Homo sapiens: one gene and its partners. The protein of the gene in region 6 purifies or fractionates together with the protein of the main gene of each other region. This does not show direct contact. Each region holds a gene or a part of one and is shown on either strand. Other genes may lie near its edges. The genes, in order: TSC22D1, RAP1GDS1, BTRC, TTL, TSC22D2, TSC22D4 and FBXW11.

Region 1 (4,579 bases), on a different chromosome or scaffold from region 6:
CGCAGCCGGGCTCCACTCAGCTCTAGACCAGGACTCCCAGTCTTAGTGCAAAATATATGCAGGAAAGAGCTGCGCCGATTGGCCGGCACGCCACTGGGACCGCCCCCTACTCCCTTCCAGGTCCTCCCGCTTCCCTGCTTCCCCGCCTCCCCCCACCCCCACCTCCGCCCCCATTCTCCAGATCCCGCTCGTGGGGTGGGCTGGCCTGGCGCGGGCCGTGCTCAGAGGGAGTGGGGTGCTGGGTTCGGAGGTTTCCACGGCGGCCTCAAAACACTGGGCCATTGCTTCGGCAGAAAATGTGAAGGGTCCCTGAAAAATACTATGGGGGCCCCCACACGTGCTTACGTTTAAGGGAGTCAGACCCCGGTCCCCGGAGCTGTGTCCCGCGGCTGCTTAACGGCGAAAGCTTCCTATTTGTAACCCGAACCGTCTGAGCTACTGGGCATGCCCAGTCCCACCACTGTAAGACTTCGAGTGTCTTGATTTCAATTATCTAGTTCTTACCGGCAGCGGTACTGGGAGGATTTTATAGACGGTTTTATTTTTAAAGATAATAATCACCCTGCAATCATGTATTTTTTTAATTTTAGAGGAAAAAAAATCACATTTGCTCTTTGAGAGATACTACCTTTTGTTTTATAGAAACAAAACAAAAAACATTATATATTCTTTGCTAGGCATGAGGGAAAGACTCCAGATAAAATCCAGGATCTTCCCAAAAAGCCCGTAGAGCCACAAACCTTAAAATCACATCTCCCTATTAGCATCTTCTCCCTAGTAACTAAATATGCCTTCTTCTATTTAGACCCAAAAAAGTCAATCCACAGGTTGAATTCCACATAAATCTATTTTTAGTTAAGTCCCTAAGGCACGTTTTTGCAAGCTGAGTGACAATTCCTCTAAGACTCAATCCCTCAATCCTATGAGCCTTCTTACATCAGAGGGATTGAAATATTATAAAGTATGTATTCAAAGCATACAAATCCTTGAAGTTAGTCTCTGCCCATTTGCAGTGTCCAGAACCAGAAAAGGGAGGATATAATGGTGGTTAAAAATAGTTAAGCAGCCAATAGATGCTGTAGGCTCACCTCTGTTTCACCCTCTTGGCCACACTGACCAAATAATTCCCTTCTCCAAACCAAAATCGAGAGATGTGGGTATAAAATAGCTTAACCCTTTCAAAATTTCCTATATTAATTTAAAATACTTGCAGGGATGCATCAATTAAGGCTACAATTTAATATACTAGAAATCTAAGCCCTGAAGTTTGCTAAATTATAATACAACATAAACAGTTTCCAAGTCAATACATGCGAGAAAGAAAACTTAACCTCTACAATACTGCCCTCTAATGGCATAATATAAAAACCAAAAAATCTACAAAGTACTTGGGGAGACCTCTCTAATCTGTAGATAAAATTGTGTCATCACAAATAATTCCAACATAAAATCTGACCGTAGAACATATATATGTAATACACGCACATGCACAAACACACACAGTCTTCTCTCCAAAATAAGCATCTTTCCTCAAGCAGCATCCTTTTCTAAAATTGCCATCAGATCCATTTAGACAGTTTTTAAGTTGACTCAATGCTGGTAGTGGGGGTAGGTAGATTTGGTTTTCAGAAACTGTCCAAAGTTATTAGGAACCAGACCAGATCGGTAAGCACAGTAAATGATGAAGACCACAATTCTCTTTTGGGTTAAAAACCAAAGTGTGACCAACTATAAAGTGATGAGATTCCCTTTTTACTGAAAGGTTCATATTCTCCAAATTTTAAGGCTTGGCTTTTGAATAACAATAATTGTTAACATATTTATAATTTATAAAAATTACATATATTAACTCATATGATGCTTTAAAAAAAAAGATACCCATTTCCAACAAAAGGAGACTAAGTAGAAGCTTAGAAATCGTAATTATTTGGGAAGCTGGCATGTGGTCCCTATGTCTATGAATGCTAACCAGAATATTATTTACTACATGATAGTCTCTATATTTTGAAAGTTAAAGTTATACCTAAAACTATTTGTATGCTAAATTCCATTTACATGTTTTAACTGAATGCCAACTTCATGAAAAAAGGGTATTAAAGCACCATTTAAGCTATAAAAAGAGCTTTAAAAAACAAAACTCTAAGGTCATATAAAAAAATTTTTAAATTCCAAGCTGCAGTTTTAAAAAATTACTAAATTAACTGAATTTATTCATGCCGTTCTTCAACATAAACAGAAAGCTGTTTTTATTTCAATCATTTTAACTGATCATCCATTGTATCAAGCAAGAGAAGCAAATATAAGCAACCATAGTCTATTTAACCCATTTTCCTATTGAAGGACATTACAGTTATTGTTAATACTTGGATATTTTAAATAAAATTGCAAGGAACATCCTTCTACATACATCCTTGAACATGTATGTGTGTGTGCACACTTCTGGAGAATTTGTTGAGCCAAAGGATAGGCAACTAAAAAAATGATTAGAAATCTAATTTTCTCATATATTTCACATAAATATGCTAGATTCCTTTAAAACTAGACTTTTGTATGAAAACTGAGAAGACATAATTTGAAAAAGAAGGCAAAGGAAATGGAAAGCTCCATGGAGGGAAAACCCTTGGATCAGAAATGTCCGTGGCACAAATGGCTAGAATTACATTCAAAGGCTCTTCTAATTGCAAGACAAACGATCCATATGTCTGGTGCCTCATCAGAGCTCACTGAGACTTGCTGACAGGGCAGAGAAAAATACTACAAGGCTTCCAGGAGAGATCCTTAAAGCCATGGACCATATAAGTCTATTTCAGGCACTGAGCAAAGATCAGGAGGTATCACCTCAGTGGGAACTCATACACATTAAACAGCCTGGACAATTGAGATTGAGGTATTTTCTAGTGTTGTCTGCCTAAAAGCCTTTTTACACAGATTCCAATTCAACTGCTACTGCATATTGGTAGCAAGCATGACAGGATAGGAAAAGAGGAACAGGCCTGAGTGTTTCTGTTTCCTGTAACATGTGCTTTTCTTCCAAACTTAATCTGACTTGGCCAACACCGGTACAGTTGGAGATTCAGCACTGAAATAGAGTAACCTCTTTCTCCCCCTATCCAAACTCCTTGCAAATCTAAAACAACTGCCAGGAAAGAAGCGAAGGCACATTACCCTGTACCTGACCAAATCACTGCTGTCTAAGGACTCCCACGTCACCTCCATTTTTCTAGTTTACTCTCACTAGGCATGGGAATATACTTACCAGGTTTAACAAATGAAACTACAGGACTATCAGTTAAATGTGAATGGCAGAAAAACAACAAATAGTGTTTTAGTGTTGGGTCCCACACACTGTCAAAACAAGAAGAAATGCCAAAGAAATGGCTGTTAAATTCAACCACAATTTACATTTCCTTATCTCCACAGAAAGGCTGGTTGGAAAAAGCTTCCAAAAGAGTAGAACAGTGGCCGGGCGCGAGCGCGATGGCTCATGCCTGTAATCCCAGCACTTTGAGAGGGTGAGATGGGCGGATCACTTGAGGTCAGGAGTTCAAGACCAGCCTTGCCAACATGGTAAAACCCCGTCTCCACTTTAAAAAAAAACAAAAACAAATAAATTAGCTGGGCGTGGTGGCACATGTCTATAATCCCAGCTACTGGGGAGGCTGACGAAGAATTGCTTGAACCCAGGAGGCAGAGGTTGCAGTGAGCTGAGATCGCATCATTGCACTCCAGCCTAGGCAACAGGGCAAGGCTCTGTCTCAAAAAAAAAAAAAAAAAAAAAAAGAATCGGAAAAGAAAAAGGATAAATCTAGGAGGTCCAACATCAAAATAGGATGCATTTCTATTTTGGAGAGAGAACAGAAGGAAGAGAATTATCAAATAATTTAAGAATTGTTCCAGAACTGAAGGACACAAGTCTCCAGTTAAATGAGATGACCAAATGCCCACCACAAGAAATGAAAAAGCCCTCCACCAAAGCACACCACCCTGAAACCTTAATCACTAGGCATAGAGAGAAAATACTAAAAGCTTCCAAATGGAAGAAACAAGTTACAAACACAGGGACTAGGAACAGAACCACTTTGCTGGCAGTCAGAAAAAGATGAAGAAAATGTCTTTAAAATTCTGAGAGAAAAGAGTTTTTTTATCCAGAATTCTTTACTTGGCCAAATCATCATTTGAGTGTAAAGGTAGAATTAAAACATTTTTAGATATTTCAGACACCAAAATGGAGGAGCAAATCAAGAAAAAAGGCAGGCATGGGAAATAGGAACCAGGAACTCAGATACTGGAGGAAAGGAAGGGAATCAGCAGGCTGGAGTGCAGGGAGATCTCAGGGGGACTGCTGCTGGACAAGCCCAAGCTGCAGCTGGTCTGTACCTGGTCTGCAATGGTAAGGGAAGATGGAGAACTCCAGGAGGGAGAGCTTCCGTGCTAATGAACACACAGATTATCTAACACATCTAAGCATTTGCAGGGCACAGGTGAGCTACTGATAGGTGTATGATAGATCTAATGGAACAATTAGATAAGCTCAAAGGCAGTTTTACTGAAAACAGAGCAAGGAAGAAAACACGGAATG
Region 2 (3,566 bases), on a different chromosome or scaffold from region 6:
GTTTACTGCATGTGTGGAGCAAGTCATTATGTAGTACCAAGTTTACATCATCATAGGACTACAACATGCACATTCTACTTAATGTAGCTCAAGCAACAGGAATACAAGAGAACGGTTATGGGTGGAGACTTGCCTTTGACAAAGTCATGATCACACTAACTATAGGTTTAGAAATCTTATTAGGGAGGTACCTACAGCGGTTCTTCAATTGGTATTAGAACATCACATGCATGCACAAGTGGTATGGTAGAGAATGAAGCGGAAGAAGCCGCTGGATGGAGGACAGAGGGGAAATTAGAGATGGGATGATGCCGTGTATCGGGCAGTTCTCAGCTTTCCACAGTAAGTCTCTGCTCTGTGAGAGAGGCCTGCTGGGCAACACTTTTGTTCTCATGACTGCGAAGTTTGGATACGACATCTAGAAAAGCCAAATCCTGTACTTCCTTGTGTAGACATTCTGGAAGACAAAAAAATAACAGATATGATTCTGTTAGGTTGTTCTAAGTCTATCCAAAACATATACCAAAATGTTTATTTTGACAAGACTAAGCTTATAAAACTAGAAACAATTCTGGAAAAAGACATAGCAGTAGCCTAGCAATGTCTTTCTTAGAAATGTATTATAATTTAAAAAAATCATAAAAACTTTACTTTTTTTTAAATTAAAGGAAAAAATTTTAAAGATGGGGACTTGCTCTGCTGCCCAGGTTTGAGTACAGTGGCATGGTCACAGCTTACTGCAGCCTCAAACTCCTAGCCTCAAGGGATTCATCCTGCTCAGTCTCCCAAGTAGCTGGGATGACAGTCATGAGCCACTGCACAGCTACTTGCCCAATTTTTAAAAAGAAAAACGAGACGTCAAGTTCTACAATGTAAGATTAATTACAATAATGAGTTATAATTAAACACAGCTCACTGTATGATCTCAAGGTTTGGTTACATACAACCCTATCACCAGTTCAAATATGAAGTCCAATGACTTACCAAAAAGCTTAGGATATGTTTCAAATTAATTTTGTGGCAAAAGAAAAGTTTATACTTCATATCCTTCAACAAATTTCTGTGACACTGGACTCCCTTTTAGATTTTTTGTCCTCTTCTTTCTGACTTGCTTTCTCTATTTAACTTCAATTACAAGAAAATATAGGATTCCTGTTAGGACTCTGAGAACTGTTATATGGGATGAGTGAAGTCTAATAAGCTTAATGTAATCAGTACTACTGAAACTGATGTGTTTATTTTGATATGACTGACATAAACCAATGAACCAGTGTTTTTAGTAGTAATAGAAAAATCCATCCTAAAATTCATATGGAATCTCAAGGGACCCTAAATCTCCAAAACAATCTTGAAAATGAACAAAGCTGGAGTTCTCATACTAACTGATATCAAAACTTACTACAAAGCTACAATAATCAAGATAGTGGGGTACTGGTACAAAATCCTACAACTTGGGCCAGGCGTGGTGGCTCACGCCTGTTATCCCAGCACTTTGGGAGGCCAAGGTGGGTGGATCACCTGAGGTCGGGAGTTTGAGACCAGCCTGACCAACATGGAGAAACCCCATCTCTACAGGTGGTGCATGCCTATAATCCCAGCTACTCAGGAGGCTGAGGCAGGAGAATCGCTTGAACCTGGGAGGTGGAAGTTACGGTGAGCCGAGATTGCACCATTGCACTGCAGCCTGGGCAACAAGTGCGAAACTCCGTCTCAAAAAAAACAAAACTCTTACAATTCAACAACAACAACAACAACACCCTTCAATTCTAAAAATGGGCAAAGACTTGAATAGACATTTCTCCAAAGAAGATATACAAATGGCCCACAAACACATAAAAAGATTCCCATCAGTAATCATTAGGGAAACGCAAATAAAAACCACAGTAAGATGCCACCTCACACTCATTAGTTTGGCCATTACTAAAACACAGCAAATATTGGTGAGGATGTTGAGAAATGATAATCCATGTGTACTGCTGGAAGAAATGTACAATGGTCCAGCCACTGTGAAAAAGAGTATGACAGTATTTAATTAGTAAAAACAGTATTTAATAAAAAAATTAAACATTGAATGACCATATGATCTAGTAATTCCACTTCTGAGTATATATCAAAAATAATTAAAAGCAGAGGCTCAGAGATATTTGCATACCAATGTTCACAGCAGCATTATTCACAAAAGCCAAAAGGTGGAAATGGCCCAAATGTCCATGGATTGATGAATGGATAAACAAAATGTGATATATACATATGATGGAAAATTATTCAGCTTTAAAAGGAAATGAAATTCTGACACGCCTACAATGCAGATAAGCCTTAAAGACCTAAGTAAAATAAGCTAGACAAAAAAGGACAGGAGTTTCTTATTCCACATATATGTGGTGACTAGAGTTGTCAGATGATGGAGACACAAAATAAATGGTGATTGCCAGAGGCTGTGGGGAGGGGTAAATGGGGAGTTATTGGTTAATGAGTACAGAGTTTCAGTTTGGGAAAATGAAGGTGGTTCTGGAGATGGATGCTGGTGATGATTGCACAGCAATGTGAATGTCCTTAATGCCATTAAACTGTATACTTAAAAATGGTTAAAACAGTAAATTTTATGTTTTGTATGTTTTACCACAATTCTAAAAATGCTTAAACAAATGGAAGAGACTCAAAGTCTCTGCAAGGAAATAAAAGATATAAAGAAGAAGCAAATGGAAATTTTTAACTAAAATATATAACTGAAATAAAAACAGGTTCAACATCAGAATAGAGGGGACAAGGGAAATAATCAGAGAACTTCCAAGATAAAACAATAGAAATTACTCAGTCTGTACAACAGAAAGAAAATAATCTGTGGGTAAAAAAGAACAAAACCTCAGGGACCTACAAGACTATAATTAAAGATCTCACATTAGTGTCAACAAAGGTCTGGAAAGAGTGGATAGAATGGGGCTGAAAAGTACCTGAAGAAGTAACAGTCAAAACTTCTCAAATTTAGCAAAAGACATAAACCTATCAATTCAAGAAGCTGAGCAAACTCAAACAGGATAAACCCAAAGAAATCCATGCCAAGACACATCATAGTTAAACTTCTGAATACTAAACGCAAAGAAAGTCTTGAGAGACAAAAATGAAACCTTACCTACAGGGGAATAAAACACATAAGAACACAATGGATTTCTCATCAGAAACCAGGGAGGCTAGAAAAAAGTGGCACAATAGTTTTCAAGTAAAGAAAGAAAAGAACTGTGAACCCAGAATCCTATACCCATTTTCTGTCATTTGACAATGTCATTTCCCTTTCATTATGAATGAAAAAAATTTTTTTTGGCTAAAAATCTGTTGCTAGCAGTATGGCTAAAGGAAGTTCTCTAAACAGAAAGGGAATGATTATAACAAAAATAAGAAATCTAAAAATGTGCGTAAATACGATAGACTTCCCTTCTCTTTCAAAGAGTTTTCTGAAATATGTTTGGTGGTTGAAAGAAAAGTTGTAACACTGTCTAACGTGATTCTAAATATATGTAGAAGAAATATTTAAGAATGATATACGTGAGAGGCTGGGCGTGGTGGCTCAC
Region 3 (4,579 bases), on a different chromosome or scaffold from region 6:
CACTTACTTTCTAGAAATAATGCTTAGAGTTTATGCTTTAGACTGCGCTATGAATGTGGTCACTCTTGCTCCCTCTGCTACCTTTCTACAACTGAATAGACCTCACCTTGATTGTGTTGTCTCGAAGGCCGCTTACTATTTTCTGATCATCATACTGTAAACAGTAAACTCCTTTGCTTGTTTCACTTCGGCAGTGAATTCTCTGTAAACTATGTCTTCCACATCTCCAATTAGATTCTATTGTCTGAGAAGAAGGAATGGGAAAGAGGCAGTGTTAGGAAACACCTAGAATCAAACTCTTTTTAGGCTTTAATGACAATCAATGGCTCAATGCTTTACTCTATGGGATATACACAACTTAGGGAAAACTAAAAAATGTCTTTAAAAGGCTACTATCTATATTTATAAAATATTCTTCCTTTTGCAAGGTAATTAAAGGTTGTTTCCTAGAACTTCCCTGCCTATAATTTGTTCAATTAAATAATAAATCTGGTGGAAAGAGACTACTCATCAAGAGAAGAAAAGCTACGAACTACGTGAGGTTATACACTCAGTGCTCTTACATATGTGATGGCCATTGCTACTGATTGCTACTGATGAACTTCTAAGGAGGTTCAATTCAGAAGATATTTAAATATGAGCTTATGAGTACAAGTTTACCAGTCACACTGCTATGTATGAAGGGATCAATCTCTTTAACTCTCTCATCTACTTATTAGTAAACCATTTTTTAAAGCTTTAAAATTTTGCCTAGCAATTTATTTTACCTACCCTACTCGCCTGTAAAGAGATTGATTTTCTTTTCCTTTTCTTTTTTTTTGATGGAGTCTCGCTCTGTCGTTCAGGAGGGAGTGCAGTGGTGCGATCTTGGCTCACTGCAACATGTGCCTCCCAGGTTCAAGTGATTCTCCTATCTCAGCCTCCTGAGTAGCTGGAATTACAGGTGTGTGCCACCATGCCTGGCTAATTTTTGTATTTTTAGTAGAGACAGGGGTCTCACCATGTTAGCCAGGCTGGTCTCAAACTCCTGACCTCAGCCTCCAAAAATGCTGGGATTACAGGTGTGAGCCACCATGGCCAGCTAAGAGATTGATTCCCAACTCATGTCAATAAACCTTAATGGGCTTGCTGTAACCATACTGTGACTGAAGAATGCTGATAATTCTGTGCCCTTGGGCAATACCCCAAAATACATAGATTCTTACCTCAATGTCTTGTATAATTTTAGGATAAAGTGCTCTATAAAAAGAGTTGGGAGGAGCATTCCCGTCAGGAGGTTTGTTTTTGAATAAATACTGTCCCCTAAAAAATAACAAATATTTCCCAGTGAAAATCATGACATTATATATTTAAATACATATATATTTTGAGACAGAGTCTCGCTCTGTTGCCCAGGCTGGAGTGCAGCAGTGTGATGTTGGCTCACTGCAACCTCCGCTTCCTGGGTTCAAGTGATTCTCCTGCCTCAGCCTCCTGAGTAGCTGTGATTACAGTCATCTGCCACCATGCTGGCTAATTTTTGTATTTTAGTAGAGATGGGGTTTCACCATGTTGGTCAGGCTGGTCTTGAACTCCTGGCCTCAAATGACCCGCCTGCTTGGCCTCCCAAAGTGCTGGGATTACAGGCGTGAGCCATCACACCCGGCCGACATTATATATTTATAAGGAACTTCATATATTTTGAAAGTGTTTTCACGGTTACCATTCCATATACTCTCCATAGCTGTCTGCGGAGGAGCAAAGGTAAGCCTGATTTCAGGAGTCCCATGTCAAAGAGTAACCTTCTGGGCTCTAAAGAATCTGACCAACACTGATTTGCTTTTGGGTAAAACATGATTATTTCCAGTGTAGAACATCGGAGTACCAAGCCTTTAGGAATATTATAATATCAGTAAACAAATGGAATATGTACAATCAGAATTCATCTATTGCTCTATTAAGACTACTGCTTAGATTCACTGGCCTCATCTTTTGGAAATTTTGTTAGTAATGGTAACTATTACCTTTGAACTAGCACATGCCCTATAGGTTTTTTTTTTTTTCCCTTTTACTGTGTCAGTGGTCCCCAGCATTGTAGACAGCAGCAATGCCTCTGGCATGGAGATCACTTTTGCTAGGTCTTTATTTGTACAGGGTAAGGTGTGGTGGCTGCTCAGTCACCCAGGCTGCTGCTAATCAGTGCAACTATGCTTTGAAAGGAGCAATTCAGTTCATTTCATCAGAAAACAAAAGGATCACAGGTGTGTCCAGCAGCAGCTAGGGAAGAAGAAAAAAAAGAAATGCCTAAGAGCACTGCTATCAAGTCTAAGGCATGAAACTGACTTTCACAGGTGTGTTCCTGGCTGTGTACATACACATGTACTTAACTGCCTTCCCTGATTCCAGTGAGCAACATTTGTTAGTATCTCCTTCCTTATGACAGCACATCTCTGGAATACTCGTATCCCAAGCTAGATCTTTGCTACAAAAAAAAAATCAGTAAATGGCAATCACTTCCTGCTGGGTAAAAAATTTAATTCCTCATCCGGAAGTTAAGAACCCACCAAACACGGTGTGGAAGCTAGTAAACCCCACTATGGGTGTACTAACTGCTGTTCTCACTGGCACCGTGCCTTGCAAAGTGGAGAGAGGCAGAAATGCCTCTGAGTGTAATCCTGGCACCAGAGAAATCATGTTTTCTCTGGGCCAGTCATCCACTCCTCCCTCTATAGCTCCATTACAATATAATTAATTGTTTGGTGTCTCCAGGAGTGTTTCTCCCCTGCCCTCTCCCTGTTATATACCCTGAAAATTAGTTGAGAAAATTTCCTATCAGGAAGGTAGATGGCTCTAACTTCTGTGTTAATACAGAAAAGAAAATCTGAAATAGAGAAGTGAAAATAATACTTATAAAAAGGGGGATTAATGAAACATGATACACCAGCATAAACAAAAGGGGAAACAAGATGCGTTATGAAAGAATTCCAGATTAATGGTACATTTCTCTGTACAATATTATTCTACAAACACTTTGCAGGCAAATAATAGATTTTGAATGTGAAGATTTTAAGTCTGACTCCTGAGCCCACCCACATTCTTAACTACTTTATTGTTTCTCAATGCCCACCATTCCTGAGATTCCTGTCTTCTTTTAATCTCTAGCACTCCAAGACTTTCTTCCTATGCAATGATACTATCTACATTCTAAGGAAAGAGAACTCACATAAGCTTCTGATCTTGTTTTCCACCTCACTGCATTTACCATGTCTTGGTAAAGTATCTGAATTTCTTCAAATCAAAGTGTTACAGAAAGAGGTGGCTAGGTACTGAAAACTGGCTTCTGTCTTTATGTTTTAAGTCAAAACCTTTTATGATGGAAGATCTTTGAAAACAGGGACTACTTCTATGTGAAATGCCTAGTACCTACAAGAATGTGAGTACATGATAAACGTTAAATATTAAATTCAGAATGTTATCATAAAATGTGATCTGCTGATTAAGAAAATTGACTTTTCCCAAGTGGTCTTTTATTATACTTTTAAGAGTTACCATTACTGAGCAGACAGCATATTCAGTATTATTCAAGAGAGAAAACTACAGAGTTCATGTCCCAGGGGAAGACTGTCAAATCCATCTAGATATAAAATACAACATCAAATACCAAGTTAAAACTTAGAGATAAAAGCTTTATTAGAAAACTGTATTTACTTACTATTTTTGGTTAGTAGAAATGGAAGAACCTTTCAAAGCTAGCATATGGGGAAAAGTATAACACAGAAAGACTTTATTGACGTATTAGGCTTGGTAAGACAACTTGAAAGAAGAAAATGAGAAACTGATGGAGTAAATTTTTTTTTAAAAAAGGGAAGAAAACTGACACAGGAATAAAGTCAACATGTAAAAACAGAAGCAGCAACAAGAAAGTCGAGGGAATAATGGAGGAAGTTGACACGGGATGTATAAGTATTTGGAATTTCATGGGTTTATCATGGGATTAAGAGGATAAACATGCCCAAAGACAAGGGGATATAGTCAGAACTCTGAAGGATACTCAAAAGAGCGGGAATGGGTTTCTGTGGATAAAGAGATAGGGGAAAAAAGTGGTAATTAGTGCTGGATCCTGGATTACTTCACCTACCCTTTAGAAAGGCTCAAAAGCCATCTTCTCAATGATTGTTTTTTCTTTGTAACTAACATAAAAGATCTTGCCATTTAGTGCCAATCCCAAGCAAAACTGTGGAGCCTTTTACCTTTGGCATTTTCACATCCATCTGCCAAGAACTGCCCACTTACTTCTTGATCTTTCTGCCTTCAAAAAAGGACTCAGTAAACTCCCAATTTATGATGAAGGTTTACTGTCATTTACAGTCCAAATGGGAACACAATGTATTTTAACAGGTAACAGAACCTTTATAGCTAAAGGAATGAATCTCCTTAACTGAAATTTCAGGAGTTATTTGGAGACGAGATTCTTTTTTTCTGAGGGATACAGAAATCTTCTCAGCTGCCCTAAAATTTTCTCATGTAAGCAACTGCCTGCTGTATCCCCAAGGCTGGTCCCAGCACTCTTAGCAAAATGATGGACCCCGAATACCATATA
Region 4 (4,579 bases), on a different chromosome or scaffold from region 6:
GGAACTGAATTTAAAGTTTAATTTTTTATTTTATTTTTATTTTTTTTATTTGAGACGGGGTCTCAGTCTGTCTCCCAGGCTGGAGTGCAGTGGTGCGATCCTGGCTCACTGCAACCTCTACCTCCCGGGTTGAAAACGTTCTCCCACCTCAGACTCCCGAGTAGCTGGGATTACAGACGCCCGTGACCACACCCAGCAAATTTTTTTTTTTGGAGATGGAGTCTCGCTCTGTCGCCCAGGCTGAAGTGCAGTAGCGCGACCTCGGCTCACTGCAAGCTCTGCCTCCTGGGTTCACGCCATTCTCCTGCCTCAGCCTCCCAGTAGCTGGGACTACAGGTGCCCACCACCACGCCCAGCTAATTTTTTTGTACTTTTAGTAGAGACGGGGTTTCACCGTGTTAGCCAGGATAGTCTCGATCTCCTGACCTCGTGATCCACCCGCCTCGGCCTCCCAAAGTGCTGGGATTACAGGCGTGAGCCACCGCGCCCGGCCCACACCCAGCTAATTTTTGTATTGTTAATAGAGACAGGGTTTCACCATGTTGGCCAAGCTGGTCTCAAACTCCTGACCTCAGGTAAACCACCCACCTCAGCCTCCCAAAGTGCTGGATTACAGGCATGAGCCACTGGGTCAGGCCTAAAATTTAATTTGCCTTTAATTTAAAAACGGATGCATTATAAAATATTTTTCCATTAAGCACAACTTTATTGATATGGTGAGATAATACTTCACTTTCTTGTTGTATCGCAGCATGCACGTCAGGGCCATGTGTCATTTCTAGTATCACACACAAACACATCGCTATTCTATTCAGGGACAATAGATTGATTCAGATCAAGTGATTTCTGTGCAGTGATGAAACATTATGATATGTTTACTATGCAGAGAGCATGAATTACAGTGCTAGCTACAAATACCACAATTGGGACTAAGGTGAAATAGAATTTCTTCCTAGTTAAAAAAATATTTGGACAAAAATTTAAATTTAAAACGAAGGCATACTACTGACGTGGAATTGAGTAGGGACACAGAAGCTAGAACTATGACAAGGACAGTAAGAGATTTAAAAAAAAAGAACTGAAAGGAGGTATGCCACAGATTCACAAGAAATGGTGACTGCAATAGGCTATGGTAAAAGTAAAATGAAAAAACGGTTGTGTAAAGGAGACATTTTTAGCAAATACATAATAAACTTGATAAGTATTTTCCTCTCAATGCTCAAAAAAATTAATGAAACTAGTGGCTAAAATCACAATATCCAACACATTTTTTAAGCAAATGTTTTACAGAGTCTGGGTTTATAATTTTGGGCAACTATAAAATGGCTTGGATTCTTACACAAAAAGAAAACCATTTTAGATGCAAATGTAGTTTTAAAAAACTATTTTAAGGAAAAGACTTAAAAATATAATTTACAAAAAATGAACAATCTTCAGCTGAGTCACAATTGCCCACAGACTACAAAACCTTTCTAACAATATCAAAGATTGACTCAAAATTTGAAAAATATTAAGTATTTTTCTTTAGCTTTAGGTGAACTGTGTGACATAAAAGATGCTGTCCAATTAATACTTTGGGTGTTTTGCCTCAAAGGATTTCCAAATGTATGATAAAATGCTGTCAAATTGCAGCTTAAAAAATATCAAACTCAGCCGGGAGTGGTGGCTCACGCCTATAATCTCAGCACTTTGGGAGGCTGAGGCAGGCGGATCACAAGGTCAGTAGATCAAGACCATCCTGGCTAACGCGGTGAAACCCTATCTCTACTAAAAATACAAAAAATTAGCCGGGTGTGGTGGCAGTTGCCTGTAGTCCCAGCTACTCGGGATGCTGAGGCAGGAGAATTGCTTGAACCCGGGAGGCGGAGGTTGCAGTGAGCTGAGATCGTGCCACTGTACTCCAACCTGGGTGACAGAGTGAGACTCCAACACACACACACACGCAAACTCATAGTATAGATATTTTAAAATCTCTTACATCTGTCACAGAATTTTACCTACATGCAAAAAATTTCTTTCTATCATGACAGATAGGACTTCAGTTAGGTTGTATTAAAATATGGATTTATGGCTGGGCACAGTGGCTCACTCCTGTAATGCCAGCAGTTTGGGAGGCCGAGGCAGGTGGATCACCTGAGGTCAGGAGTTCAAGACCAGCCTGGTCAACATGGTGAAATCCCGTCTCTACTAAAAATACAAAAAACTAGCCAGACATGGTGGTGGGTGCCTGTAATCCCAGCTACTTGGGAGGCTGAGGCAGGAGAATCGCTTGAACTGGGAGGCAGAGGTTGTAGTGAGCTGAGATGGTGCCACTGCACTCCAGCCTGGGTGACAGAGTAAAACTCCATCTCAAAAAAAAAAAAAAAAAAAAAAGATTTACTAAGATTTTAGTAGACTAATGTTTCCTTTACTACTTCATTTTATTGTATGATACATATTGGAAACATTTGCTTCATTGCATTATGTGTTACATGTTGAAAACATTTGTGTTAGGTCTGCTTTTTGTTTGTTTGTTTGTTTATCCGAGACAGGGTTTGGTTCTGTTGCCCAGGCTGGAGTGCAGCGGCACAATCTCGGCTCACTGCAAACTCTGCCTCCCCGGCTCAAGCGATTCTTGTGCCTCAGCCTCCCAAGTAGCTGGGATTACAGGCGCACACCACCATGCCCAGCTAATTTTTTTTTGTATTTGGAAGAGGCAGGGTTTCACCATGTTGGCCAGGCTGGTCTCGAACTCCTGACCTCAAATGATGCACCTGCCTTGGCCTCTGAAAGTGTTGGGATTACAGGTGTGAGTCACCACATCCGGCCTTGTGCTAGGTTTTCTGAAGCAGACTCTAAGTGTCACGGATACAGTTGTTAAAATGGTTCTGTATATACTCAATGATTCTCCAGTTCATGGAAACAGAAGACAATGAATTTAATGATACTGTGTTCTCTGCCAGTATTCACTGATGGAGAAGGGGAAGGGTCTTTTTAAATAAAGATTTACTTTTCAACTCCAATTCAGATTTTCTTGAAAATAAAAGGAATGTTTGTCAAATCATCATTTTCACTCAGTAATTCATTATTTCAATAATCAAAATAAAAAATGACTGCCATTTGCATTTTCTCATCTATCTTCATACTGCATATAAACAAGATAAATTTAAAGCTCCAAGGAAGGGAAGAGAAGATCTTATTTATGATCCACCCAGACAGGTGTGAGAATTTATGTTCCAACTTCATAAGTTGATAATAATGATTTCACATATTTTTACAACATGATTCAGTATGCAAAAAATGTTAATTGTAATAGCATTATGAAAATTGGCTGCAAAAACTAAAAGAAATCTGAGGAACACTTTGTTGACATTGGTAAATTTAGAGTTACTTTTCAATATATTCAATACATCTTTGAATTTGATATTTACAGTATCAAACTAACACAAGAGTTGGTGAATTTACTTAACTTGGACATTATTTTGAAAATAAGCTTTTGCTTCATAGTCAAATCAATTCTTCTAGAAAAGATGAACTAGTTTTGAAAATGTGTGTGCAATATTAAAGGAAATAGATCTTCTGGCTTTCAAAGTTGTTGAAAAACTTTTATGTACAACTTGAGTACATAAATCTACTTCTTCAACCATACATTTTTTATGTAATCTAAATTCAGATCAAAGCTTTCCAATGAAAATTTACTGTTTGAATTAAGATGTGCTACATATGTAAAATTCACATTAGATTTTGAAGAGTGAATAAAAGAACGTAAAATATAATAGCTTTTTATATTAATTACATGTCAAAATAACATTTTGGATTTATTTAGTTAAATATAATAAATTATTTGGGTTTTTTAAATTAATTTATTTCTTTTTTGAGACGGCGTCTCACTCTGTCACCCAGGCTGGAGTGCAATGGCATGATCTCAGCTCACTGCAATCTCCACCTCCTGGGCCCAAGCAATTCTCCTGCCTCAGCCTCCCAAGTAGCTGGGACTACAGGCGCCTGCCACCATGCCCAGCTAATTTTTATATTTTTAATAGAGACGGGGTTTCACCATGTTGGCCAGGATGGTCTCAATCTCTTGACATCGTGATCCGCCCGCCTCGGCCTCCCAAAATGCTGGGATTACAGGCGTGAGCCACCACGCCCGGCAATAAATTATTAATTTAATTGCAGCTGTTACTTTTCTTTTCTTTTTTTTTAAGAAGGAGTCTCACTCTGTCTCCCAAGCTGGAGTGCAGTGGCATGATCTCGGCTCACTGCAACCTCCACCTCTCAGGTTCAAGCGATTCTCCTGCCTCAGCCTCCCGAGCAGCTGGGATTACAGGTACCCACCACCATACCCAGCTAATTTTTGTATTTTTAGTAGACATGGGGTTTTACCATGCTGGCCAGATTGGTCTCGAACTCCTGACCCTAAGTGATCTGTCCGCCTCAGACTCCCAAAGTGCTGAGATTACAGGCGTGAGCCACCACGCCCGGCTTGCAGCTGTTTCTCTGCACTTATTTTAATGTGGCTACTAGGCGGTTTATAATTACATGTGTGGGTAGCATCCTATTTCTGTTGGACAGTGCTGGTCTGTAAGATGACCTTGGT
Region 5 (4,392 bases), on a different chromosome or scaffold from region 6:
ATAATTGTTTAAGCTAGGTGATAAGTACATGGGAGTTCATTATACAGTTCACTGTTGTATATGGTTGAAAAATCCACAACAAAATGATAAACAAAATTGTAAGGTAACCACTGGAAGAATGTATCTGGAATGTATAACTTCCCAACCAAAAGAGGGATCAAAAATGAATAAGAAACAACTGAATGAAAGCCAAGAAAAGGGAAAAAGGGTGTGTGTGTGGCAAGGCAGTGGCCGGTGCGGGGGTGGGGTGTCTAGAAAGCATTTTAAGGAGAAAACATGAAATAAGATGGCAGAAATACATCCAAATATGCCACTGATGAAATAGACATGGATTAAATTTTTCTATCAAAAGACAGATTGGGTTAAGAAATTAAAAATTCAAGCCAGAAACAGTGGTGGATACCTGTAGTCCCAGCTACTTGGGAGACTGAGGTGGGAGGATTGTTTGAGCCTAGGAGTTCAAAGCCAGCCTGGGCAACATAGCAAGACTTCATCTCTATAAAAGAAAAAAATTGGGAACACTTATTCTATTTCATGGAATGAAGTGTTGCCTGGTTCAGAAAAGAAAATTCAACTATATACTTTTTATAAGGGAAACTCTTTATAAAAAAAAAGTGAAGTTAGAAAATGAAGAGATAGAAAACTACTAGAGTAATGAAATGATCATAAAGAGAAATTAGGAGTAAAGCAGTTCAATAAGATATGGGATAGAATTAGCAACAAAGTGATCATCAATGACCTTGACAAGAACAGTTTCAGTGGCACAATGGGAGCTAAAGCCAGACTGCGTTTGTGATAAGCTGTACGTGGAAGAGGAAAAAGTGGAAAGGAAGAGGAAGGAGCTGAAAAAGCAAGTGAAGGGAACATATTTTCAGTTAGGGGAGGTGGTCTACTCATTTATTGGCCAGTTATTTATTGAGCCTGTATAAATACTGATGTGAAAAAGCCATGGGAGAAGGCGAAGTAGAAGAAACAGGTAGGGGGGGAAGATATTCCTGGGGAGGAAAGATGCTGAACATGATGAGACCCCAGGTACCAGGGGGAAACATTAGCAGCAGACAAGAAGAAAACACATTATTTTATTTTATTTCTAATTTATTAATTTGTCATTACACAAACAATACATAAATGCATATTCAAAAACATCAAACATTACAGTTAAAGCTAATGCACGCTACCAAACTACTGTTGACAGTTTGGTTAGTATCCTTCCAGACCTTCTCTCTATATAATACACAAATATGTACTTGTAGAAGTACACTATACAGTATTTGTGTGTGTGTGTGTGTGTGTGTGTGTGTGTGTGTGATGTGATTTAACATCACTAGTATCATATGTATTACAGGTATTGTCTTTCAATTTTTCCCCCAAACTTTTAACATTGTCTCCTGGAGATCCTTCCATGCCGGACATGTAGGACTCTCTCTTTTTCATTGATACTTAATACTTCATCATGTGTACCATAGTCCATCCTCTTGATGAGTATTTTGGTTTTTCCAATTTCATAGTATTACAGTAGCTCCCCCATCATGGAGGATATTTTCCAAGACCCTCACTGAATGCCTGAAACCATGAATAATACCAAACCCTCTATGTACTATGTTTTTTTATGATCTGATAATAGAAATGACTAATGGGCATTATAAAATGGGTATATAATGAGTGTATACATTGTGGATACACTGGACAAAGGGATGATTCCTGTCCCAGGCAGGATGGAGAGGGATAGTGAGAGATTTTTATTATACTATGCAGAAAGGTTTGAAGTTTAAAACTTATGTTCGTTTCTGGAATTTTCCATTTAATATTTTTGTATTGTGGTTGACCTTGGATGACTGAAACCTCAAAAAGTGAAAATGCAGATAAGGGGGTCTACTGTACAAGCAAAGGTGCAATTGACATCATTGTACAGGCTATCTTGTGAACACATGTATGTTTCTTTAGGACATTAAAAGTTGGAATTGTTAGGTCACAGGGTATGTGACTTTTAAAATTTAATGGGTGATACACAATTGTCTTTAAAAGAGGCTGTGCCAATTTGTATGCTCACTAGCAATGTATTCCTGTTTTTCCACACCCTTTCCAGCTTTTGATTTGTATGCACGCTAAATATTAGTTGGATCTGAGATGGTTTCTTGTGTTTTAATGTGCACTTCCCTTATTTTGCTGAGATTGAGCTTCTCTTTATAACCTATTTGTAAAGTTCTTTGCTTATGTGCATTTTCAAATGGACAGGGTATATAGCTTCATAGCTTCCAATTTCTAAAAGGGAGTAACCAAAAAGTAGAAGACTAACTGCTAGTCTAGCTAGAATTAATTTTTGTGAAAGATCTAACTTTATATTTCTTCTAAATTGTTATGCTATCCCATACTATTTGTTGAATAATCCATTTTTTCCTTACTAATTTGAAATGTCACTTTTATTACTTACTCAACATATTATTTGTGTTTCTGGATTCTCAGCTGTATTAGAGATTTATTTTTGGTATCAGTCACCTGAGTTATTCTTAACTTGGTTCATTAAATGGTAGCTGATTTTGTCAGCCAAGATAATAAGTGTCACTTGTTGCTTATGAGACAATAGACAATATAATTCATGACACATGAATCCTATTCTAGTTAACTTTGATTTAAATCAATTTCATTATCTACAACTTAGAGTATTAAAAATGTGTAAACTTTTCTCAGATTAGTTCCTCTTTTTTAGGGAATACTTCATAGGCTCGATGTCGAGGTGGAAGGCTTTTCCCCTCCTTCTAAAAGTATTATTTGATGTTAAAGCTTTCTGGTGATTTAAAGTTGTTTCCTGGCAATATCAAAGGATTTTTACATGGGATGGCAATATTACTGTTGATTTATAAAAACCTTTCATTTAACAAATGATATAAGGTTCACAAACTATAACATATACTCTGAATAAACAATATGGCACTTTAACTTTTACACTTACACTGGACTGAGCTCATTGGAGCACACAAATCATGTCCCATTCATCTTTCTATCCCCAAACATCCAGTACAGGTTGCAGCACCTAAATTGAAATAGAATTAAATTGCATGTCAACATTTTTTTTATAAAATAAAAAAAAGAAACCTAAATTTCTTGAAAACATCACTTTTAGGGTTTTACAAAGTCATACATGTTTCTTTTTATTAGCCACTGACCTGTTATTATTTCCATCTCAAGTGTGGGGAAAATGTTCCCTTGCTGTCTCTGATCTTCCTCAGGTATGATATGACCTATCTATAGATACATTGCATGCCTGTGAAATGACAGCAAGAACTGTGATCCGGATAACATTTGGATTGCAGCAGGCAAGAGTATTTTACAGTTGTTATATGGAAATATTGTAGGCATGCAAAAGAATGGAGAGATGAACTTAACTTTTTTATGGAGAAGTTGAACTGTGGCATTTGCCTTGTTTTAAAATTCAGTTGTTTTTATGATCTAAGTTAGCACACCTTTCCCTTCCCTCCAAGGGGATAAATATGGCTTCTGTGGACAATGTTGTAGTCTGTAAACTTAAATACTATGGACCCATGACAGTAGACAATGGGAAAATTCCCCAAACTGCCTAGTCTATCAGTTTCCCTGCTGAGAATGAAAAATAAAGCTAACTCACTCACCATCCAGGTATGCTGAACAAATTCAACAACTAAATGGACTGCGCCAGTGCAAAATACCAGCGTCTTACTTTGCCATCACCAATCTGAAAATCTGTCTTATTTTTCTTATTTGATGATTCCATGGCGGGGTTCGGGGGGGTGGTGGGCAAGCAAGAATGTCTGTGAACTTTAACTTGCTTCAGAGTGCCTCACTTAGCATTTTCATCTATGAACACAGCATGTCATACCAATTGTACTCCACAAAAGATATAGTTACAGTAGCACTTGTATAAAGTAATCCTTGCAACCTATGAAGGAAAGCCATACATTTAAAGGGATCTTGCTGTAGAAATTCTGTGAACTGGTACAGAAATACAGGACAAAGATGTATCCTGAAATATTGAAAAGGAGTAAATGGGGTGCAAGTATACATCACTAAATAATAAACTATTACTATTGCTAGAAAATAGAAATATGGATTATTAAGAGGCTTGAAGCAGAAGGAGGTGGGAGAAAAGGTCTGGTTTTGGATAGGCAGGAGACTTAGAAAAAAGAAGCCTGCAGGACTGACCTATGTCAAAGAATAAAAGGCTAAAGCCTAGCAAAACCTATTCTGCCTTGGGCTGTCAGTACCTACAGTGGGGGCCAGAACCTGTATTATCCTTTCCAGGGAGCAAGGAATAGATTTTAGGGAAAGGCTTTGGAATCAACATCCTAATCCTAGTCACCATAAAAGGATTCCATTTAGTTTACCTTTAGGGTAGAATTGAGAGACAGGCATAGTGAC
Region 6 (4,579 bases):
AGACGGAGGCCTCAGGAGGTTGAATCCTCTAAGACAGAGACAGCAGGAGGCTGGGCTGTGAACTCAACAGGGGTGGGGGAGGGACGGGGAGTCCTCTTGCCGGGGAACCTCCCAAGTGGGAGAGGGAGAGGGCGGGAAACGCTGAGAATAGCAGTGATGGCGGCAGGTGACTCTCCCAGCCCTGGCCGACCTCACACCTCGCACATTCCTGAGAGTGGGAATGGGGCGTGCAGAAGCCACCCAGTCCTGCCCAGCCCCGCCCAGCCCCACCCAGCACTGGCACTCTTGCCCTCCGTCCCACCAGCTCCTGGCCACCTCCTTTGCCAGGTCCCTATCCTCCCTGAGGCCGCAGGACCCTATCAGTGGTGGGCTTGAGTCCCTGATCCCAGCGAGTGGCCCCTGATCTGGGGAGGACAGGAAGGAGCGACTCCCATCTGGAATTGGTCCCTCAGGCACCCACTCACCCACTCTCGAAGCCCCACCCCCAATTTCCTTCCAAGCAGGAAGTCCCTCCCCTTGAAAACCTCCCACGGGAAGTCCCACTTCTCCCTCCAAAAGAAAAGCGGTGACTCCCCAGCCCTTCTGCCCGGTTCCTATCAGTCCCCGGGGAGAAGCAGGCAGCCTGGCTATCTCTGACTCACGATTCTGGGCCTCCCTTTTCAGCTTGCTGGCTTTCTTAGGAATGGTGACACCTGGCCCTGAAAACCCACCCAACAGAGCACTGTCCCCTAAAGGGAGAACCCCAGAAAGTCGCTCTCTGCAGTGCTGCCCCTGCCCCTTTGCCGTTCCTAGCTCTGATTCTGTTCCTAGCTGGCCCATCTTAGGGACTTGCTTTCTCGGTTCTAGAAATCTTAGGATCCTAAAGTAGACCCTGTGGGCTATCAGGATGTCACGCTCCACAGGTGCTGTTAGGGAGTCCCAGTCCTTTGTTAGGAGAGAAAGAGGGAGATGGAACTGGGAGGAAACTGATTTCCATTCTTTTTCAGTTTTTTTTGTTGTTTTTTTTTTGAGGCGGAGTCTCGCTCTGTCACCCACGCTGGAGTGCAGTGGTGCGATCTCGGCTCACTGCACCCTCTGCCTCCTGGGTTCAAGTGATTCTCCTGCCTCAGCCTCCTGAGTAGCTGGGATTACAGGCACGTACCACCACGCCTGGCTAATTTTTGTATTTTTAGTACAGACAGGGTTTCACCGTGTTGGCAAGGCTGGCCTCGAACTCCTGACCTCAGGTGATCTGCCCGCTTCAGCCTCCTAAAGTGCTGGGATTACAGGCATGAGCCACCATGCCCAGCCTACTTCCTTTATGTATATATATATATATTTTTTTTTTCTTTCTTTCTTTTTCTTTTTAGAGATGAGGTCTCGCTACATTGCCAGGGCTTGGTCTTGAACTCCTGGCCTCAAGCAATTTTCCTGCCTGGGCCTCCCAAAGCACTATGAGTACAGGCGGGAGCCACTGTGCCCCGGCCTGATTTGCTATTCTGTCTAGAGCATGCATTTGCCAGTGGGTTCCTGGGTTGGCCAGATGATCTCTAAATCTGCAAGAGCTCTGGAATCTGACAACAATGACTCCCTTCAGACTCTAAAAAAGTCTGTGACCTGACAGTTCTGAGCCAGGGAGTCCCACCCAGCCCTCTCCACAGAGAGGGAGTGGGTCCGAAATCAACTGTGTGCAGTGGCTATGCCCAGGCCAGGTTTCTCTAAGAGGTCCTCTCCAAGTTCAACCTGGGGGAAGGATGCCTACCAGGCACTTTCTTACAGCTACCCCGGGTGCTGGGCGGGGAACCTGAACCCCACGCCCCACCACCCCACGAAGCCCACCTACCTATCATCGTCGCTGTCTAGGTGACCACTGATGGCCAACATGGAGTGGGCCAGGCTGAACTTCTGAGCTGCTACTGCTCCGAAGGGGTCTGGAGATTTGTGAACCAGGCTGGCATCGTGGGTGAAGTAGAGGGCTGGGGAGCTGGGGCGAGAGTCAAGTGGGGGCACCTGGAGGCGGAGAGGTAGGAACCATCACATGAAAAGAGAAAAGAAAGGAACCAGCTGCCTTAAAACTTGCCTATTAGCCTTCCTCCCTCTCCACCTCCCCACTCTCTTTCGAGGACCCAGGAGTCCTGTCCCCGCAGTCCTTCCCTCCTCCAGCTCTGGAGAAGGCATTAGGCAGGTACTAGAAGCAAGAAGTGGGTCAACCTAAGGAATGGGAGGAGTGGTGTATAGGACATTAGAGAGAGTCTCCCAAGTGGGAGGAGGGGGTGACTGACGGAGGAACCCAGAATAGACTCCAATGCCCCAGCTCCCACTGGGCCGGGACCCCTAATCAGAGGCTACGCAGCGTGTCTGCCTTCTTTTATGTTTTATTTTTATTTTTTTGAGACAGTCTCACTCTGTCACCCAGGCTGGAGTGAAGTGGCACAATCATGGCTCACTGCAGCCTTGAATTCCTGAGCTTAAGCGATCCTCCAGCCTCAGCCACCCGAGTAGCTGGGACTACAGGCATGCACCATCATAACTGGCTAATTTTTTATTTTTGGTTAACACAGGGTCTCAAGATGTTGTCCCGGCTGGTCTCAAACTCCTGGGCTCAAGTGATCCTCCTGCCTCAGCCTCCCAAAGTGCTGGAAGAATGAGCCACCACTCCCAGCCTGTGCCTTTACTGGAGTCTCGCTCTGTCGCCCATGCTGGAGTGCAGTGACGTGATCTTGGCTCACTGTAACCTATGCCTTCCAGGTTAAACTGATTCTCCTGCCTCAGCCTCCTGAGTAGCCGGGACTACCGGCACCTGCCATCACACCTGGCTAATTTTTTTATTTTTAGTAGAGACGACAGGGTTTCACCATGTTGGCCAGGCTGGTCTTGAACTCCTGACCTCAAGTGATCTGCCCGCCTCGGCCTCCCAAAATGCTGGGATTACAGGCGTGAACCACTGCACCCAGGCTGCCTTCTTAAAATGACTCCAATGTCACCTCTTAGAGAGGCATTTCCCCATCATTCACTGGTTTACTGAACTATTTCATTTTTTTATAGCACCTAACATTATCTGAAATTAAAGTATTTATTGTGTCTCTCCCCTGCTAGAAGGTCAGTTTGCTCAGTAGCTATTTGTAGAATGAATGGATCCTCAGAAACTGCTCCTCCATCCCCTCACCCACCCCCCACTCTCGCTTCCCCTCTCAAACTTCTCGGACTCAGGTGGAATTCTGCTCCTGCGCTCTGCCCTAGGGTTGGGGGGGGAGCTGGTTGTGGAGCTGGGGGGAGGCGGAGCCTGGGCGTGGACCTGCATAGCCCAACAGGCTCTGGGGGCAGCAGCAAAAAGGGCGGGGGCGACAGGAACATGACAAGACGCCTCTGTGAGGCCCCGGGAGGCCCCAGCTTCTCAGAAAAGCCAAGAACAGAGAGTCCAGGGTGGTTAAGGGACAGAGCAGAGGAAGGGGGCCCAGGTGGTGTCCCCTGGCCCTTCTCCACCACTCCCCTCTGTTAAGAGGGAGAAGAGGCATGAGGGGACGTGGAAGGGAGACAGACTTTTGGGCAAGGAAATAGCAAAACAGATGCGTGCAAACAGAAGACCGTCAGGAGGTGGGGGAAGGCTGGGGAGTAGGGGGCACTGAGAGAGAGAGGCAGGGTCTGTGGCCCCAAGAGAAGCTCAGGCCAGGCTTAAGGACAGAGAGCAGGGAAGCTGGAGGCCAAGGGGGTTTGCTTTGGAAGAGTCTGGGGACAGGACAGGAAGAGAAACAGCATCTTCTCCCCTGGGGTGGGTGCTGAATGCAAGAGTTCAAGAAGAGTTGGGGGAGGGGGGGTAGGAGGGGGCATCACGAGAGATGTGAGCTTGAGGCCAGGAGGGGTTTGGGGGGAGCCAGTCCTGACCGGTCCTGACAGGACCCAGACATCCAGTCCCAGGTTATTTTTATACTGTGGTTTGTGCCCAAGGCCAGGAAGGGGAAAGAGTTCGCATCCTCACACTCCCTGCCTTTCCCCAGACCTCCGAGGTGTTATATTCTCCCACAGGACAGAAGTATCCAACCTTCTATCTCTGGCTGCTCACCCCCACCATGGGGACCCAGGCATCCTGCCCCCACAGCCTGGCTTGTTCCTCTTTTGGAGACAGGAAGGAGAAAGAGTATGGGACTGAACTCCCTTCTGGGGCTCTTCTCTCCCACTCCACAGTGGTCACCCTCGAGTTATCAATCACAGAGAGGCTCAGATGGACGGGGGTGAGCCAGACAACTGGGGGGTGAAATGGATCAACCAGCAGGCCCCCTCCCTGTCCCTGAGAGGTGTTCCCCCCACCCAATTTCTCAGTGACACTTGGCTTACAGCAAAGCTGGAGGCAGGACTGAGATGGGTGGCTGGGGGAAAAGAAAGACCCCCACATTCAGGATGGGGCTGCAGTGCAGAGACTGGCAGCGCGCAAGGCCTACCTTTTACTTTTCCTCCCCAAATCCTGGCAGCTCCTCCCCTAGGGACCCAGCTACCCAGCTATCCAGCTGGGGCCTCCACCCTCATCACCTAGAGGCAGAGGGGCTGAGACCAAGACAGAAGAAGGCCTGATGAGGGGGCCACATATGCTACAGGCTACATGAAG
Region 7 (4,579 bases), on a different chromosome or scaffold from region 6:
GTTTCATAATATCAGCATGGAGGATTTCTCCATATCCTTGCCAACACTTCCTATTATTTGTCTCTTTTATTATATCTGCCCTAGTGATTGTGCAGTGGTACTCTGTGGTTTTGCTTTGCATTCCCTTGTTACTGATGATGCTAAACAACTTGTTGTATGCTTATTGGCCATTTGTGTACCTTCTCTGGAGAAATGTCTATTTAAATCTTTTGCCCACTTTAAAAATTGGTAATTTGCCTTTTTATTATTGAGTTATAAGTTCTTTATATATTCTGGGCACAAGTCCCTTATCAGATACATGATTTGCAAATATTTTCTCCCTTTCTGTGAGTTGTCTTTTCACTTTTTTGATGGTGTCCTTTGATGCACAAATGATTTTAATTTTGATGATGTTCAATTTATCAAGACTTGTATAGTTTCAGTGCTTATGTGTAGGTCCTTGATCCATTTTGAGTTAAATTTTTGTTTAAGGTATGAGGTAGGGGTCCAGTGCCATTCTTTTACTTGTGGAGATCTATTTATCTATCCCATTCAGCTACAAATGCAGCTGGTAAGATAATTCAGGGCACTCTGGTTGCTGTGTGTCTCCTTATTTGTCTAATAATATGTTTAGCTGTCTATGAACATCTAAGTCAGATACCACAAAAGAGGGGATTATTTATTCTGCATACATACAATTAGAAGTAATGTGTCAAAACAAATGGAGCTGTTCCAGAAAATATGCTGGAAAAGAGGATGATATGAAAGGTGAGACTTTTTGTTTGTTTTTTGAGACAAAGTCTTGCTTTGTCACCCAGGCTGGAGTGCAGTGGCACAGACACAGCTCACTGCAGCCTCAACCTGCTGGGCTCAAATGATCCTTTCACCTCAGCTCCCTGAGTAGCTGGGACCACAGGTGCATGCTGCCATGCCCAGCTAATTTTATTTTTTGTAGAGATGGGGTTTCACTATTTTGCCCAGGCTGGTCTCGAACTCTTTAGCTCAAGCAATTCTCCTGTCTCAGCCTCCCAAAGTGCTAGGATTAGGTGTGAGCTACCGTACCCAGCTGGAAGCTTTTTTATTACATTAGCTCCATGGGGTTTGAAATGTCAGCTGGTGTAAAAACATAAAATCTGGCCCAAACTCTTTCCTCCAGGTAAATGAGCGTTTGAACCATTCAGGAGATGTTCTCTTTGTAAAGATCTCAAAGACTGGAGACTTCACTTCCCTCCGTGTTTCATTCCAGTGTTATTACTCAGCAGCCAAGAAAATTTTATGCTGTCTAGTCTGCCCCCCAGCCTCCCAACTTTGAGTTAGAGGACACCGTATTTTATAATCACATATTTGGGTCATTATCAGAAGCTCTGTCTTTTTAAGAAAGGTATATTGTGAGAGGACTTTCCTGTGTTCATTCTTTAAAATACTGTTAATTTGTTATACAGGTCTGGAGCACGAGCACCTGTGAATTTGTTCGTACTCTCAATGGGCACAAGCGGGGCATTGCCTGTCTCCAGTACAGGGATCGCCTGGTTGTTAGTGGATCATCAGATAATACCATTAGGTGGGTAGAAGTTGGTGTGCTGACAGAGCAGGCTGATTTTTGCCACATTGTTGACTCATCTCCTAGTTCTAATGCTCAAAACAACTCAGGGTAAATGGGATGTTTCAGATAAGAAAGCTTTAGGTAACTTTTAGAAATGTATTTGGGCTCTGTATACTCAAGTGGGAAAACCGTGTGTGCCCTGGGTGTTCTTCCAAGATTCCCCCAGTACACAAAGTTTTTTAACCTCAGCTCCACCTGGGATCACTTAATACCAGAGCACTTCAGAACAGGCTAGGGTGCTGCAGTGCAGCCCAGCTCGCTCCAATTTCCCTCACCTGTGAGCTCCCACCTCCCTACCTAACACATGGGAGTGTACTTTATTTTCCTCTCCCAAGACTGCATCTGTTCCTGCCAGGTCATTTACCTCTCTTTTTCCTTCCCAGCACTCGGCCTCCCTGCTTTCTAATAAATCTGACTAACCTTAGACATTTTGTATCTTACTAAGAACATCCCTTCAATATCTACTTCATTATCCCATGCCATTTCCCCACTGTCTCAACACACTCTAGTGGCATTACATAAGTGACTAAACTTAACTTTGGTTTATAATCAAATTGACTAATGTTTGGTCAAAATAAAGATAGGATTCAAGATTATTAAAAAAAGTTTTTTGTTTTTTAAAGGCAGGCAAGCAAACACATGCTAGTAGCTTTACATAAGTGACTAAACTTTGGCGTTTATAATTGCCTAATGTTTGGTCAAAATAAAGATTGGGTTTAAGATTATTAAAACTTTTTTTTAAGGCAAGCAAATAACAAAAAAGCTATTTAAGTTTGCTTTATCACTTTAGGCTTCAAGATACCATAAATTTAGTTTAGAGCTTAAATCTTGATTCTCTTATATTCATCATGCTTTGTGGTATTGCTTAATGTTTCATCAATAAACAGTTCTTAACTTCCTCATTGGAATTGTCAAGGTTTTACAAGATAGTAATGTGTATTACTCTCCAGCTTATAGAAGGGAACTACTTTGGAGTCATAGTGGCAGTACTGAATGGCTTTGATCACAGATTAGAGATGCTATCATCACGGGTACTAAGAAGATTTGCTAAGGGCAGCTGTAATAAAATACATTCTTTGGATGTATCATAGGAATTACTGGTAGAGAGGCTAAGAAAAAGTTATAGAATTAATTTGCTCACTTTATTTTGTACATGCTAACTAGCTATGATTTTTTTCTACAAATACTGTAGAAAATCAGTCATAATAGGAAAAAAGATCTCTAACTCCAGAATTGTTACATAAATCATATGCAGAGAAAAAGACTTGGTGTTGTCAATGGGTTTATATTTCCACCAGAACACTGCGTGTACCTAGTAAGTCTCCCACTCTGACTTTGTAAACCGTCAATCCCAGTATTCAGCATATAGTATCAAGGAAGGGGTATCCCCAAGCCTCATCAAGAGACAGCCACCTCCCCTGCTGGTCCGCCAGTTCTAACCTCAGTGGTCCTTATGGACTCCACTGTGCTAGAAGTGCCTGGGGCGGAAGCTTAACCCCCTGGCTGTACGTGATATCTCCTTTCCCACCTTGTCTCATCTGTGCTCTTTCTCCTTTACTGCCTACAATCCCTGTCTCCCCAGAAGAGTCTTTCCTACACCATTTGTCTACATGGTTTTTATCAACTCAGACATCAAGAGAATGCCTAAGGATTAAATAGAATTGAAGTTTCTTGTTTGTTGATTTTATTTAAATAGTAATACAGACGCATGATTAAAAACAGTTTCAAATCATATAAAAGGAAATAGAATAAAAAGTAAGGCTTCTTCCTAGGTTAGTGCTTGGAAACACACAGATGGTATAAATGTACACATACAGCTTTATATGTGTGGTGTGTACTGGAAGTGAGATAGAAATAAAGAGCTCCAAGATAGTGAAAAATTGTATCTGTATGGAACAGATATAAAAAACTTACGGATAGTGTGAATCGTGTGTGGGAATTTGTTTCACAGAGGTCTGTTTTTCATTCAAGGCTCTGGGATATTGAATGTGGTGCCTGTTTAAGAGTCCTAGAGGGACATGAAGAATTGGTCCGATGCATCCGGTTTGATAACAAGAGGATTGTCAGTGGGGCCTATGATGGGTATGTCTTTCAGATTTTCAGATGTACTGCTATAACTGTATCAAGAAGAAAGAGAAATGTTATATATTAAGCAACTCTGTATGTACCAGGTCCTATGGTAGGTTTCTGTGTAATGGTGGATGGCAGGTATTATTATACCTGTTGTTTAGGTGAGGACACTCAGGCCCAGAAAGAAGAACTAAATCTTACCCCAAATCACACAGAGGGAGAGTCACTGTGGTTCCTAAACTTAGCTTTGAATCATCGCTGTCAACTCCAGCAATAGCTTAGGTTTCAATAGTTGATGTGGGGGTATTGACTTCTTTGCTTTATCCCTAAATTAAGCCAGGCTCTTTGTGTGTGTGTGTGTGTGTGTGTGTTCGTTCAACAATAAGTTTCTTCTTTTCCCTTTTTTTCCCTTTTTGGTAAATTGAACAAACCCTCTTTAAAACACCTCACTACATTTTAAATGAGCAAATGGCAACTGTAAATCTTTCCAGATGACCTTATATATACTTCCCAAATGGGTTAGTTGGTCTGTTTGTACTCCTATTACTAACTTCCAGCATTTGCTTAATTTGGAGAAAGGTATCCTTGGAATTTCACACAGAGCCCTAGCTTCTGTCAGCAGCACCTACTCAGCCCTAGAGAGTCCCCTGATGAATGAATTTGGTGACATAGGTTATCAAGTCCGGAACTGAATTTAGATAACCTGAAGTTGTTTTCTTATCTCCCTTAAAATAATATTTCTTTAAAATTTCAGCAATTCTGAGAATGTGTAGGTTCTTAATTTTTCCAAAATCAAGTGTAATTGGTTCAGATGATTTGTAAAAACATAAGCATGTTCCCCATTAGCTTTTATAAATAGGCAGTTCAGATGCACTACTTTTTTTCAAGGAAATGTTTGACAGCATATAAATTGTTCACTTTTCCACT

Evidence for each region.
Region 1: the proteins of TSC22D4 (region 6) and TSC22D1 purify together in Homo sapiens (affinity purification with mass spectrometry; 4 studies listed by BioGRID and IntAct, with this or other methods). This does not show direct contact.
Region 2: the proteins of TSC22D4 (region 6) and RAP1GDS1 purify together in Homo sapiens (affinity purification with mass spectrometry; 4 studies listed by BioGRID and IntAct, with this or other methods). This does not show direct contact.
Region 3: the proteins of TSC22D4 (region 6) and BTRC purify together in Homo sapiens (affinity purification with mass spectrometry; 4 studies listed by BioGRID and IntAct, with this or other methods). This does not show direct contact.
Region 4: the proteins of TSC22D4 (region 6) and TTL purify together in Homo sapiens (affinity purification with mass spectrometry; 3 studies listed by BioGRID and IntAct, with this or other methods). This does not show direct contact.
Region 5: the proteins of TSC22D4 (region 6) and TSC22D2 purify together in Homo sapiens (affinity purification with mass spectrometry; 4 studies listed by BioGRID and IntAct, with this or other methods). This does not show direct contact.
Region 7: the proteins of TSC22D4 (region 6) and FBXW11 purify together in Homo sapiens (affinity purification with mass spectrometry; 4 studies listed by BioGRID and IntAct, with this or other methods). This does not show direct contact.

The regions. Positions count from the first base shown.
Region 1 is NC_000013.11:44,436,831-44,441,409, forward strand, and holds part of TSC22D1 (TSC22 domain family protein 1), read right to left. Parts: intron 463-4,579; exon of another isoform or gene 346-462; intron 29-345; exon of another isoform or gene 1-28. UniProt on the Homo sapiens protein: Transcriptional repressor. Acts on the C-type natriuretic peptide (CNP) promoter. Acts to promote CASP3-mediated apoptosis.
Region 2 is NC_000004.12:98,438,881-98,442,446, reverse strand, and holds part of RAP1GDS1 (rap1 GTPase-GDP dissociation stimulator 1), read right to left. Parts: intron 458-3,566; coding exon 330-457; 3' UTR 1-329. UniProt on the Homo sapiens protein: Acts as a GEF (guanine nucleotide exchange factor) for the Rho family of small GTP-binding proteins (G proteins) that stimulates the dissociation of GDP to enable subsequent binding of GTP.
Region 3 is NC_000010.11:101,527,960-101,532,538, reverse strand, and holds part of BTRC (F-box/WD repeat-containing protein 1A), read right to left. Parts: intron 1,303-4,579; coding exon 1,206-1,302; intron 245-1,205; coding exon 107-244; intron 1-106. UniProt on the Homo sapiens protein: Substrate recognition component of a SCF (SKP1-CUL1-F-box protein) E3 ubiquitin-protein ligase complex which mediates the ubiquitination and subsequent proteasomal degradation of target proteins. Recognizes and binds to phosphorylated target proteins.
Region 4 is NC_000002.12:112,488,363-112,492,941, reverse strand, and holds part of TTL (tubulin--tyrosine ligase), read right to left. Parts: intron 1-4,579. UniProt on the Homo sapiens protein: Catalyzes the post-translational addition of a tyrosine to the C-terminal end of detyrosinated alpha-tubulin.
Region 5 is NC_000003.12:150,463,108-150,467,499, reverse strand, and holds the end of TSC22D2 (TSC22 domain family protein 2), read right to left. Parts: 3' UTR 1,078-4,392; downstream 1-1,077. UniProt on the Homo sapiens protein: Reduces the level of nuclear PKM isoform M2 which results in repression of cyclin CCND1 transcription and reduced cell growth.
Region 6 is NC_000007.14:100,472,452-100,477,030, forward strand, and holds part of TSC22D4 (TSC22 domain family protein 4), read right to left. Parts: intron 1,990-4,579; coding exon 1,823-1,989; intron 1-1,822. Other genes in the region: TSC22D4-C7ORF61 (uncharacterized protein LOC122198330), read right to left, coding at 1,823-1,989.
Region 7 is NC_000005.10:171,869,833-171,874,411, reverse strand, and holds part of FBXW11 (F-box/WD repeat-containing protein 11), read left to right. Parts: intron 1-1,421; coding exon 1,422-1,540; intron 1,541-3,553; coding exon 3,554-3,664; intron 3,665-4,579.